Linked DNA regions of Homo sapiens. The protein of the gene in region 1 purifies or fractionates together with the protein of each later gene. This does not show direct contact. Each region holds a gene or a part of one and is shown on either strand. Other genes may lie near its edges. The genes, in order: HTATIP2, ASAH1 and RCC2.

What was found.
Region 2: the proteins of HTATIP2 (region 1) and ASAH1 purify together in Homo sapiens (affinity purification with mass spectrometry; one large-scale study listed by BioGRID and IntAct). This does not show direct contact.
Region 3: the proteins of HTATIP2 (region 1) and RCC2 fractionate together in Homo sapiens (co-fractionation; one large-scale study listed by BioGRID). This does not show direct contact.

The regions. Positions count from the first base shown.
Region 1 is NC_000011.10:20,370,206-20,373,857, forward strand, and holds part of HTATIP2 (protein HTATIP2), read left to right. Parts: intron 1-3,652. UniProt on the Homo sapiens protein: Represses translation by preventing reactivation of elongation factor eEF1A. May also inhibit nuclear import by competing with nuclear import substrates for binding to a subset of nuclear transport receptors.
Region 2 is NC_000008.11:18,074,053-18,077,704, reverse strand, and holds part of ASAH1 (acid ceramidase isoform a preproprotein), read left to right. Parts: intron 1-2,117; coding exon 2,118-2,164; intron 2,165-3,652. UniProt on the Homo sapiens protein: Lysosomal ceramidase that hydrolyzes sphingolipid ceramides into sphingosine and free fatty acids at acidic pH.
Region 3 is NC_000001.11:17,415,533-17,419,184, forward strand, and holds part of RCC2 (protein RCC2), read right to left. Parts: intron 1,115-3,652; coding exon 948-1,114; intron 1-947. UniProt on the Homo sapiens protein: Multifunctional protein that may affect its functions by regulating the activity of small GTPases, such as RAC1 and RALA. Required for normal progress through the cell cycle, both during interphase and during mitosis.

The DNA.
Region 1 (3,652 bases):
TCCTGGATAACCTTTGCCTTGCTTTAGTGAGTAACTTGTTTGCTAGTGAAGATTGAAATAGCCTTTGAAAACCAGATCTGTATTGTCCTGGAGTGAAGCACAAAAACTTAGAGATGCCAGTGAGAATAGTTCATTTCCCCTTATTTGTATCAAAAGAGGGATTTGATTAGTGAATTCAAGGTGGTTCGATGTGGTTTCACCTTTTCATTTGTTTCCTCACCTGGTCGTAGTAGGCTCCAGAAGTCCAGGTTCTTGTTTTCTGTTGAGTGGATGATGTCATTAATGTGATTAGTGTGGCCACTGTGACATTTATTAGGCATCTCATGGCCCATCTCATTAGAACCTTATGGCTTCTGATTCTAATGATCTGCTCTTCTAATTCAAAGGTTTGCAATACAGCCTGCCACCTGTTTTTGTACACCCTGTGAGCTAAGAATGTCTTTATGTATATATTTTTTTTTTGAGACGGAGTCTCGCTCAGTTGCCCAGGCTAGAGTGCAGTGGCGCAATCTCGGCTCACTGCAAGCTCCGCCTCCTGGGTTCACGCCATTCTCCTGCCTCAGCCTCCCAAGTAGCTGGGACTACAGGTGCCCACCACCATGCCCAGCTAATTTTTTGTATTTTTAGTAGAGATGGGGTTTTACCGTGTTAGCCAGGATGGTCTCGATCTCCTGACCTCGTGATCTGCCCGTCTTGGCCTCCCAAAGTGCTGGGATTACAGGCGTGAGCCACCGCACCCGGCCTATATTTTTAACTGGTTAAAAAATTCAAAAGAATAATGTCATACCATGTGAAAATATAAAAACTTCAAATTTTAGTCTTTATACATAAAGTGGTATTGGGACACAGCCATGCTTATTACTTTATGTATTATCTGTGGCTGCTTTTGTGCTATTAACATAATGGTAGAGCTATATAGTTGCAACAGAGGCCTGCAAAGCTAAAAATAGTTACTGTCTGATCCTTTACAGGAAAAGTTTGCCCACCCTTGTTCTAATCTCTGTTGTTTATTTGATGTCTAGGAGGGGGCTTGTGAAGTGGCGAGGTCCTAGCTGGTTCAAGGGACCCAGATCACAGGCCCTGTTTGGTTGCCAAGTAGCTATGGAGCCTGGAGTTTGCTGGTTAGCTTTTGGAGGCCACTACCTCCTTGTCTGTCAGAAGGAGGTGACCAGTGAACCCACCTTCCTACTGCAAAATTCTTAAACATTTTTCTGTTTTTTTGAGACAGAGTCTCATTCCATCGCCCAGGCTGGAGTGCAGTTGTGTGATTTCGGCTCACTGCAGGAGTGCGATTTCGGTCACTGCAGCCTCCACCTACCCAGCTCAAGCAATCCTCCCACCTCAGCCTCCCAAGTAGCTGGGACCACAGGCATGCGCCACCATGGCTGGCTAATTTTTGTATTTTTTTTTGTAGAGACAGGGTTTTGCCATGCTTCCCACCCAGGCTGGTCTTGAACTCCTGGGTTCAAGTGATCTGCTTGCCTCGGCCTCCCAAAGTGCTGGGATTACCATGAGCCATCGCACCCGGCCTGAAAAATTCTTTGACTCTATGAAACACAGAAGAAAGAATATCCAATTGGAAAACTTTTTCAAGAACATATAGATTGACCCAGGAATCCTCAGTATCTGCTTGATTTTATTTATCTATCCAGAACTTCTCTAACCAAGATCTTTCCCCTACCATTGAACATCAAATATGGAGATGCCCTCCAGGACACAAACAAAAGGTGCCTCAGATTATACCATTTGGTGTTTGTCAGCATCTTTGTTTTCTAGTCTAATTTATAGGGTTGGATTGAAAGGGAGTGAAGGAGAAAGAACCTGAAGCAGAAATAGGGCTGAATGGGACCTTTACAGAATGATAGACCCACCCTTCTTGGAAAAAGATCCCCATGATTTACTTTTTTATAAATTAATTAATTTTTTAGAGACAGGGTCTCACTGTGTTGCCAAGGCTAGACTCAAATTCCTGGGATCAAGCGATCTTCCTGCTTCAGCCTCCTGAGTAGCTGGGACCACAGACCACCGTGCCTGACCCCATGACCTTCTTGAGTCGTTTAGACGTGCTAACTTGTCCTATCAGTCAGCACTGAAATACTATACCTTGTTAGGATGAGTTGTTCTGAAGCCAGAATGTTGTTTTTAGTTTTCAGGCACTGGTAAAGAAGATTAGAAGAAATACTTAGTAGCTTTGGATTTTAGTAAGACTTAAGAGTCGTTGGAGAATTTGCTGCCTTTGATGTTGTGGAGCCTATGAGGATATCTCTACTGAGTGTAGTATACTGTGTTTATTCTTTTTGAGAGGGTGCTGGGAAAGGACTTTATAGTGGGAACTTATTTAATTAATTCCTTTTTCTAGAAGGGACTCAGATTCCTAGCTTAGAGCAGGACACATTGGCTATGGAATCATAAAGACAGAATGACATGTGGACTTAATACTCTCAGAAGAGATGTCTGTCCACATGGTTAGGGAAACTAAGTACAGTTTTTCTAAAAATTGTGTTTCTGAGATATGAAATAGCTTGCTTTAGTTAGTTTTTCTGTTGTTTTTTTAATCGAGCTATTGGAGAACAATAAAGGGCATGAATAAGATTTTCGAGATCGCTCCTTTCATCTGTAAATAGAATCTTCCTCACTCCAGAGAAAATTGGTGTGTGATACCTCCTAGTCAGTCATCAGGACCCATGCTTCAGTTTGATTTTTAAGTCTTTGAAAGCTGTTGACCCTTTTGCTTTTGAGTTTCATTCACCAGCTAAAAGGCCACGCCATCAGGGTGACGGAAGTGAAATTCAAAATTTAGTGGGCTTGGAAAAACGCGTATTTATAATGAGCTTGAAGGCTCAGAGGATTTGTGAAATCGTTTTGGATTAACAGCCATTGATTGCTAATAAAACAATATTTAGCTTTGTCCAGAGAACAGCAATGGAGAAAGGTATGGGCACCTTGTCAACAGGCCCCATTGAGCAGGGATGATGGGCTAAGTGTGGGGGTCTCTGCAGCAGCGTGGGTGCTCGTCCTTCAAGGAGCGGTTGTCAGTCGTTAGCGAGGCGGGTGAAAGGAAGGACGCCAAAGTCTGATGGCCGGGGTGGTATTGATGTGCCTTCGCTGACTAATCAGATTGAAAAAGTCCCATGGTATTTATGTCACTTTAATTTTCATCAAACAATTGGAGACGACAGCACTCTATTAAGGAGAGGTTGATCCAGAACTAAAGCCAAATAAATTAGGGTCTCAGTTTAATCAAATTATCCTTTTACTGGCTCTGGATTAAGTGAGAGAGACAGCGTCGGTCAGGAGACTTGTGATTGGCTGAATCTTTCCCTTATTTTTAAAGAAACGGATGAAAGAAAAAGTATTTTAACAGACTACTATAATAATCCTTCCAATCAATCTTGCTAAAACAACAACAACAAAAAAACTGAATTTATTTCACTAGTCAACTGTGTCATTTTGTTGTGAATAACTAACCTGTCATTAAAATCAGAGTTCTGATAAACTGGCATGAGGGGAAGAAACAGATGTGGAAGAAAAATTTAGTGTCTTAGAATTTTTCTATGTAGTTTTGGGCTGTTTCTCTTGGCACACTTTCAGCACATCTAAAGTCTCCATTTGGAGAATGGCTCTGAGGGTAATCACTTCTCTCAGGATGTGC
Region 2 (3,652 bases), on another chromosome or scaffold:
AGTAGCAGAAGTATTGTGTCCAGGGAAAATGAAATTATTTTACATGTCATTGAGAACCCTTGTCCTGGACTTTGGGAAGAACATCAATATCAATTAAAGAACAAAGCATGTGATTTTTGAGTGATTTTTCTTGACTGTCAACATACCGATAACTGATCAGTTGTTGATATTTATTAGATGATCATTGCCAAGTTTGAAGTGACTGAAGAGTTAGCCTCTGAATCATCTGTATAAAACAACTACAGGCGAGGATGTTTTCGAAGAAGCTGAGAAAATAATGATTGAGTATAACCTGGAATGGAATCTGCTAAGATCTATAAAAATTGACAGTAGTAAAAATATTTGTGAGTAGAAAAAGGCGGAGTTGAGCAAATTCACAAAACTTGTGAACATGCGAGGTGTTTAAAGCTCATGGTTATTTATTATAGTATTCCTTTTCAGATATTTTGTGGAAAATATTGGAATCTCACATGTGTTATTGAACCGGCAATATAAACCATGAGCTTCATTTGCTCTTGTGGATATAACCGTCATCATTTCTGTGAATTATCAGAAATAGAGGCCGGATATCCTGATGTCTCTTGTGACAGAGCCATTAGATAGCTTGCTAGCTGTAAAGTTTTGCAGTCTTTGAGTTCACAGTTGAGACTGAAGTTTTTCTAAACGAGCTGCCCCCAGCCACTATTACTGAACACGAATGGCTTTGGAAATTAGCTTTTGCTACAGACTTGATATTGTTTCTTAATGAATTCAACGCAAAATTACCAGACAAAGCCAGACATATGTGAGAAACTTACAGTGTGGTAAGGCAAATTTGACAGCTAATGTTTGAATCACAGGTAATGTCAACCTACTTTATATATTCCCCATGTTATCAAAAGTTAAAACAAGGTGCTAGACCTCCATTCTTACACAGCTGTCCAGCAGATACATTTTCTGTGCTCAAGCTACAGTTCCAGGAGTTTTCTGAGCTCAAGCTACAGTTCCAGGAGTTTTCTGAGCTCAAGCTACAGTTCCAAGAGTTTTCTGAGCTCAAGCTACAGTTCCAAGAGTTTTCTTACCTACTCTACTTTATCTTATTTTGGATTTGTACTTTTTTAAAACAATTATTTTACTTTCACAGAACTGGTTCTCCAGAGGAAAGGAGATAAAGACACTTGATATGTTGAATGAGTAACAAAAGAATCATAAATCTGTGTGGACTTTTTTTGATAAGTTTAGGAGAAGGTTCCATTTTGCCACTAAGCTTGGACAACTTCCCCTAAAAGAGTCTGTTCATTCCTTGTCTCAGGCAGTGACGTCAGTGTTGGGGGCCGTCCTCACCTCAAGGAGCGCAGAGTCTGGTATTGACAAGGAACGCAAACAGATGATTATAAAGCAGTGTCATAAACATGTTGATGAGAGTGTGCACAAATGCTGTGGGAGGAAAGGAGGGTATGAATATTTTCATATGGAAGATAGATGAAGACTTCACAAGAAAGAAAATGCTTGAACTGAATCTTGGAAGTTAGAACCAGCAGTTCACCAGGTGGGGAAAAGGCATTCTAGCAAGAGGGAATAGCACAGACACAGGCATGGAAGGGTGAGAGATGATAGGAAGTGCCTGCGTATGGCTATAAATACTAAGGGGAGTGTCAGGAGATGAGGCTGGGATGGTAAGTTACCATGGAAAGATGATGAAGGGCCCTGTGCTGTGTGCCCTGAAAATCTGGTTTGGGAGGCAAATCCCAGGACAGGTTGCAACACACATGGCTGGTAAGTGCAGATAATACATCCTATCAGGTCATTTACTTTTAGTGCTAAGTCAGCCTCTCTAACATAAATATTTTCCATCTACTTTGTTACATTTGTTCGTTACTCAATATATTTGAAATATTAGAGCCAAATTATAACACCTAGCACTTTTACAAATTGAATTGAAACTGAAAATCCACTTAATGGTTTAGGATTTTAGAAGTTTTCTTGGAAAGAAAAGACTTATTTTAAGAGGCATTGAAACGTATAAAAGAGCAATATCAGACTTGATGTTGTCTTCACAGATTAACTACTTTTGAAATTGCTTATTCCGTTGGCAAGCATTTGTTATTTTCTGAAACTTAATTTTCTTTGCTTTTCAGTGGACAGAGGACTGCAGAAAATCAACCTATCCTCCTTCAGGACCAACGTGAGTAAACATCAGATGATCAAAACTCCCTTTGACCTTTGTGAAGTTTTTTCTGTATGTAATAATTGCTCATAAACGAACGATAGTGAATAAAATCTTAAGTCATGTTTCCCATTCCGAGACAGAGGTTTGTTTCTCAGATTTGTTTATTATGCATTTGGCTGAGATCTTGGACAAATATGAAAATATCTTCCGATTCAAATGCCCGTCGCTAGACTATCAAAATCATCGGAAAGAAAAGGATTTTCAGCCAGACGCGGTGGCTCACGCCTGTAATCCCAGCACTTTGGGAGGCCGAGGCGGGTAAATCATAAGGTCAGGAGATCGAGACCATGCTGGCTAACAGTGAAACCCCGTCTCTACTAAAAATACAAAAAATTAGCCAGGCGTGGTGGCGGGCGCCTGTAGTCCCAGCTACTCTGGAGGCTGAGGCAGGAGAATGGCGTGAACCCGGGAGGCGGAGCTTGCAGTGAGCCGAGATCGCACCACTGCACTCCAGTCTGGGCGACAGAGTGAGACTCTGTCTCAAAAAAAAAAAGGAAAGGATTTTCATTCTCCACTCAATTCTCCTGTCTACCATGAAGGGTTTTTCTCATCTTTGACAAATGTAAGGGCTGTATTTGAAATGACCTGTGATTCTCTATGGTGCCTGGATATAAACCACCAAATTATATTGTAACAAAAAAGCATAGGCCCTCATATGTGAAACGTTCTCAAAATAAACCTTGGCACAACAAAGCTGTCGAGGACAAAACAGGATTGGAACACCTAAGAGGAGGACCAATGTCATGATTCAGTGTGTTTAACATTAATATTTTTAGTCTAGATTTTGGTCTTTCCAAATCCTCAGTGTTTAAATGGGCCTGTGAGAAAGCCATAATAACAGCTCACAGACCCCTCAGAGTGTACAGAACAGAGAAAAGAAGGAACAGGTATAGGGGGTGGTGATCTTTTTCTCCTACACTGCCCTTTCGCTGAAAGTAGCCTGCTGTTTGTAGGGGGAAACAGTACAACTCTATCTAGTGATATCAAGATGACATTTTCAGTTCGTGCAACATTCCAAATTACTTACGTTGTACTGTTGTTGTCTAAACGATGTATTTTAAATAGCCTCTGTCCCAGATAGCGTGAAACTGTAATAAACTAAGTTCTTTTGACTTACTCGCCTTTATGTAGAAAGAGGCCAGTATTTGGCAGGAAGCAATTTAGAGGTAACCAGTTTGGATGTTGTTTGGGGCCAGTGTTCATTCCAGCTCTTTCTTCAATGGCCTGCTGTCTGAAAGTCTTCCTTTCTGTCATCACTGGCATCATTCTGGCCTTCAGTGACATGTCTGCCTTACTGATTGATTATGTCTCTCTGTTGGTCTCACTGCCCCAATTCATTGAACATTTAATGAGGTGCCTTCCATGTTTGAGGCCGTTTCTACTCCCTTTTAGGTGCACTTTACATGTGTCTATAAATTGAATGCCCTGCAAACCATAAACCTT
Region 3 (3,652 bases), on another chromosome or scaffold:
AAACCCCATCTCTACTAAAAATACAAAATTAGCCAGGAATGGTGGCAGGTGCCTCTAATCCCAGCTACTCAGGAGGCTGAGGCAGGAGAATAGCTTGAAACAGGAAGACAGAGGTTGCAGTGAGTTGAGATCCCACCACTGCATTCCAGCCTGGGTGAAAAAGTGAAACTCCGCCTCAAATAAAAAAAAAAAAGATACACAAACAAAAGATTGCACTGCAGTTTATCTAAAGTGACCTTTAAAGAAACAACCTAGGCCAGGCGTGGTGGCTCACACCTGTAATCCCAGCACTTTGAGAGGCCGAGGTGGGCAGATCACCTGAGGTCAGGAGTTTGAGACCAGCCTGACCAACATGGAGAAACCCTGTCTCTACTGAAAATACAAAACTAGCCGGGGCATGGTGGCGCATGCCTGTAATCCCAGCTACTCGGGAGGCTGAGGCAGGAGAATTGCTTGAACCTGGGAGGTGGAAGCTGTGGTGAGCCGAGATCACGCCATTGCACTCCAGCCTGGGCAACAAGAGTGAAACTGTCTCCAAAAAAAAAAGGGGGGGGGGGCGGGGGGGACAACCTACTGATTAAAAACGACTCACATCCCCAGTATGGGGCACCATCTACTGACCTGGAAAGATGTCTGTGATGTTATGTTAGATAAAAGCCAAAAGCAGAAAGTGCTTACCTTAAGGTGCAGGTGAGGGCGGCAAAACATCTACGTGTTTAAGATGTGTCTATTTAAATCACGGGAGAAGTTAACATAGGAGGCAGTGACAGGGAACCCTGCCCTGGGACCAAGGACCCTTTGGCCAAGGTGCAAAGCCCTCTTGAAGAAGCAAGCAGATGTCTACCTGGGATCAGTTCCTAGCCAAAGCCAAGCGTCAGGAAACTTGAGCATAAACACCCCTTCCATCCTGGTGCGACTCTCAGGAAGTGAGAAAAGCCGAGCCTCACCGTGTGGTTAGCGCCACAGGCCACGTCTCGTACAACCACGTTTGGTACAGGCAGAATCTGTCCATCTTTCGTCTTCTCAATGAAGATGGCCACTCGCCGGGGAACTAGTTCACAGTCGTACTCTATCCGCTGTGCCCGGGCGATGAACTTCCCATCTGAGTTGTGTCCTGTAGAGACCACAGAGCCGGCCATCAGCAGCAGCACAAGCACAAGGGACGTGTCAGTGTGCTCACACGGACTCTGTAGTGAGCCCCGGCAGCACCCCAATCTGGCCCTTCTGGGCCTTAGACCAGCACACGTTGGTCAACAAAGGCAGCATTTCCAATCTTAGGCACAGCACAGTGAGTGGGTCAGTGAAATCAATTTTGTGAGCTAAGACCAGTTATTTTTTAAAAACGAATAGAACAGAATGACAAAGAATACTCTACACATAATAATGGCACCATGTTACAACAATTCCAGGTAAGGTATTATACGTTCAGATTGGGTTGCAAAAGAAAACTTATTTCTTACAATGGGTTGCAGTCAAAAAAGTTGAAGCTGCTGATCAAGGAATGGTCTATCAAGTAAGATCTCTACCCCACTGGAGGGACCACAAGGAGCCCCTAAAAGACCAAGAATAGACAGAAAAGCTCCATACACAATCCCAGGCCTCTGTTTTTATGAATTACCAGTAACCTAAACGTATGGTTACGGGTGGCTAAAGCCTGCAATTCCCACACTCCGAATGACCCAGGGACTGGTTCGCAAAGACCCAGCTCAGCACACCACACACCAGAAGCCCGGCTGCTCCAGTCCTGAGAACACGCCAGACACCCAAGCTCCTGCAGCCACCTGCAGCAGCAGGGCTGCTAAGTAGTTTATAGTTTTAAACTGCTCCTGTTCCCACACTGTGATCATCAGTTTGGTTGGGCACGGTGGGCCACGCCTGGAATCCCAGCACGTTGGGAGGCCGAAGTGGGTGGATCACCTGAAGTGAGGTGTTTGAGACCAGCCTGGCCAACACAGTGAAGGCCTGTCTCTACTTTAAAAAACAAAAACAAACAAACAAAGATTAGCTGGGCGTGGTGGTGGGTGCCTATAGTCCAGCTACTTGGGAAGGCTGAGGCAGAAGAATCGCTTGAACCTGGGAGGTGGAGGTTGCAGTGAGCAGAGATCATGCCACTGCACTCCAGCCTGGGCGACAGAACAAGTTTCTGTCTCCAAAAAAAAACAAACAAAAAAACTTGTTGTTATCAGTTTGTAAACTAGCCCCCGGCTTGTGGCTAATCCCCCTCCATACGGCACGCTGGTGTGCACCTCAGCCCTTATTGGTATGTGTGTTTTTGAGCACTGTGCTATTTAAATACAGTCAGCCCTCCATGGCCACAGGTTCAACCAACAGTGGTCCAAAAATATCTGGGGGGAGGAGGAAACAAGGAAAAAAAAAAGATAATACAAACAATACAAGTAAGACCATACAGTAGAACTACTTACATAACATTTACATCACATTAGGTACTGAAGTAATCTAGAGATGATTTTAAGTGTACAGGTTACATGCAAATACTATGCCATTTTATATAAGGTACTTGAGCATCTTAAGATCTTGGTATCCACAGGGGGTACTGGAAGCAATCCCCCAGGTTACCAAGGAGCAACTGCACCCTGGAATCACAACTACGCTACACACAATAAAACTCCTGGGCTTGTTTACAGGGCGCCTTATAACACTCATCTCATAAGCAGGTTCTATTTTTTTTTTTTTTTTTTTGAGACAGAGTCTCGCTCTGTCGCCCAGGCTGGAGTGCGGTGGCATGATCTCTGCTCACTATCACTGTCTTATGACAGCAGTTCTCTACTGTTGACATAATCCCTTCCAGTGGAACATCTGTCCGTTTAAAAGTCTGAGGGTCTTGGCCGGGCGCGGTGGCTCGCGCCTGTAATCCCAGCACTTTGGGAGGCTGAGGTCGGCGGATCACGAGGTCAAGAGATTGAGACCATCCTGGCCAACATGGTGAAACCCCGTCTCTACCAAAAATACAAAAATTAGCCAGGTGTGGTGGCGCACGCCTGTAGTCCCAGCTACTCAGGAGGCTGAGGCAGGAGAATCGCTTGAACCCGGGAGGCGGAGGGTGCAGTGACCCGAGATCGCGCCACTGCACTCCAGCCTGGTGACAGAGCAAGACTCCGTATCAAAAAAAACAATAAAAGTCTGAGGGTCCCCACTAAGAAATTCCCCCACCTTCTAGGCTACGATGAATGTAAGAGCATCACAGTAAATAGAATGCATTTCCGGATATGTCGCTACTTTTCTCACAAAAATGGTATTTTTAAACACTTGCACTCTTCCGGACAAGGTTTCAGCAAGGCAGTCAACAAATGATTAGAGTCCTTTTATTTGCTATCGACACAGTGGATACTGAACAGACACAACTCCCAGACAGGAGAGGAGGCACATTTGGTGACTGCTTTTTCCACCTCCTTTAAAGAGCTGCACACATCTGCTTTCTCCAGAAGTACAGGACAGAAGCTACTCCAGAAAACATCGAACAGCGGGCTTCCCTGTCCCTCTAGAGGGGTGACAGCTCTTTAAAATAAAGTTAAATGGCATGGCTGGGCACGGTGGCTCATGCCTGTAATCCCAACACTTTGGGAGGCCGAGGCGGGTAGATCACTTGAGATCAAGCGTTTGAGACCAGCCTGGTCAACATGGTGAAACCCCG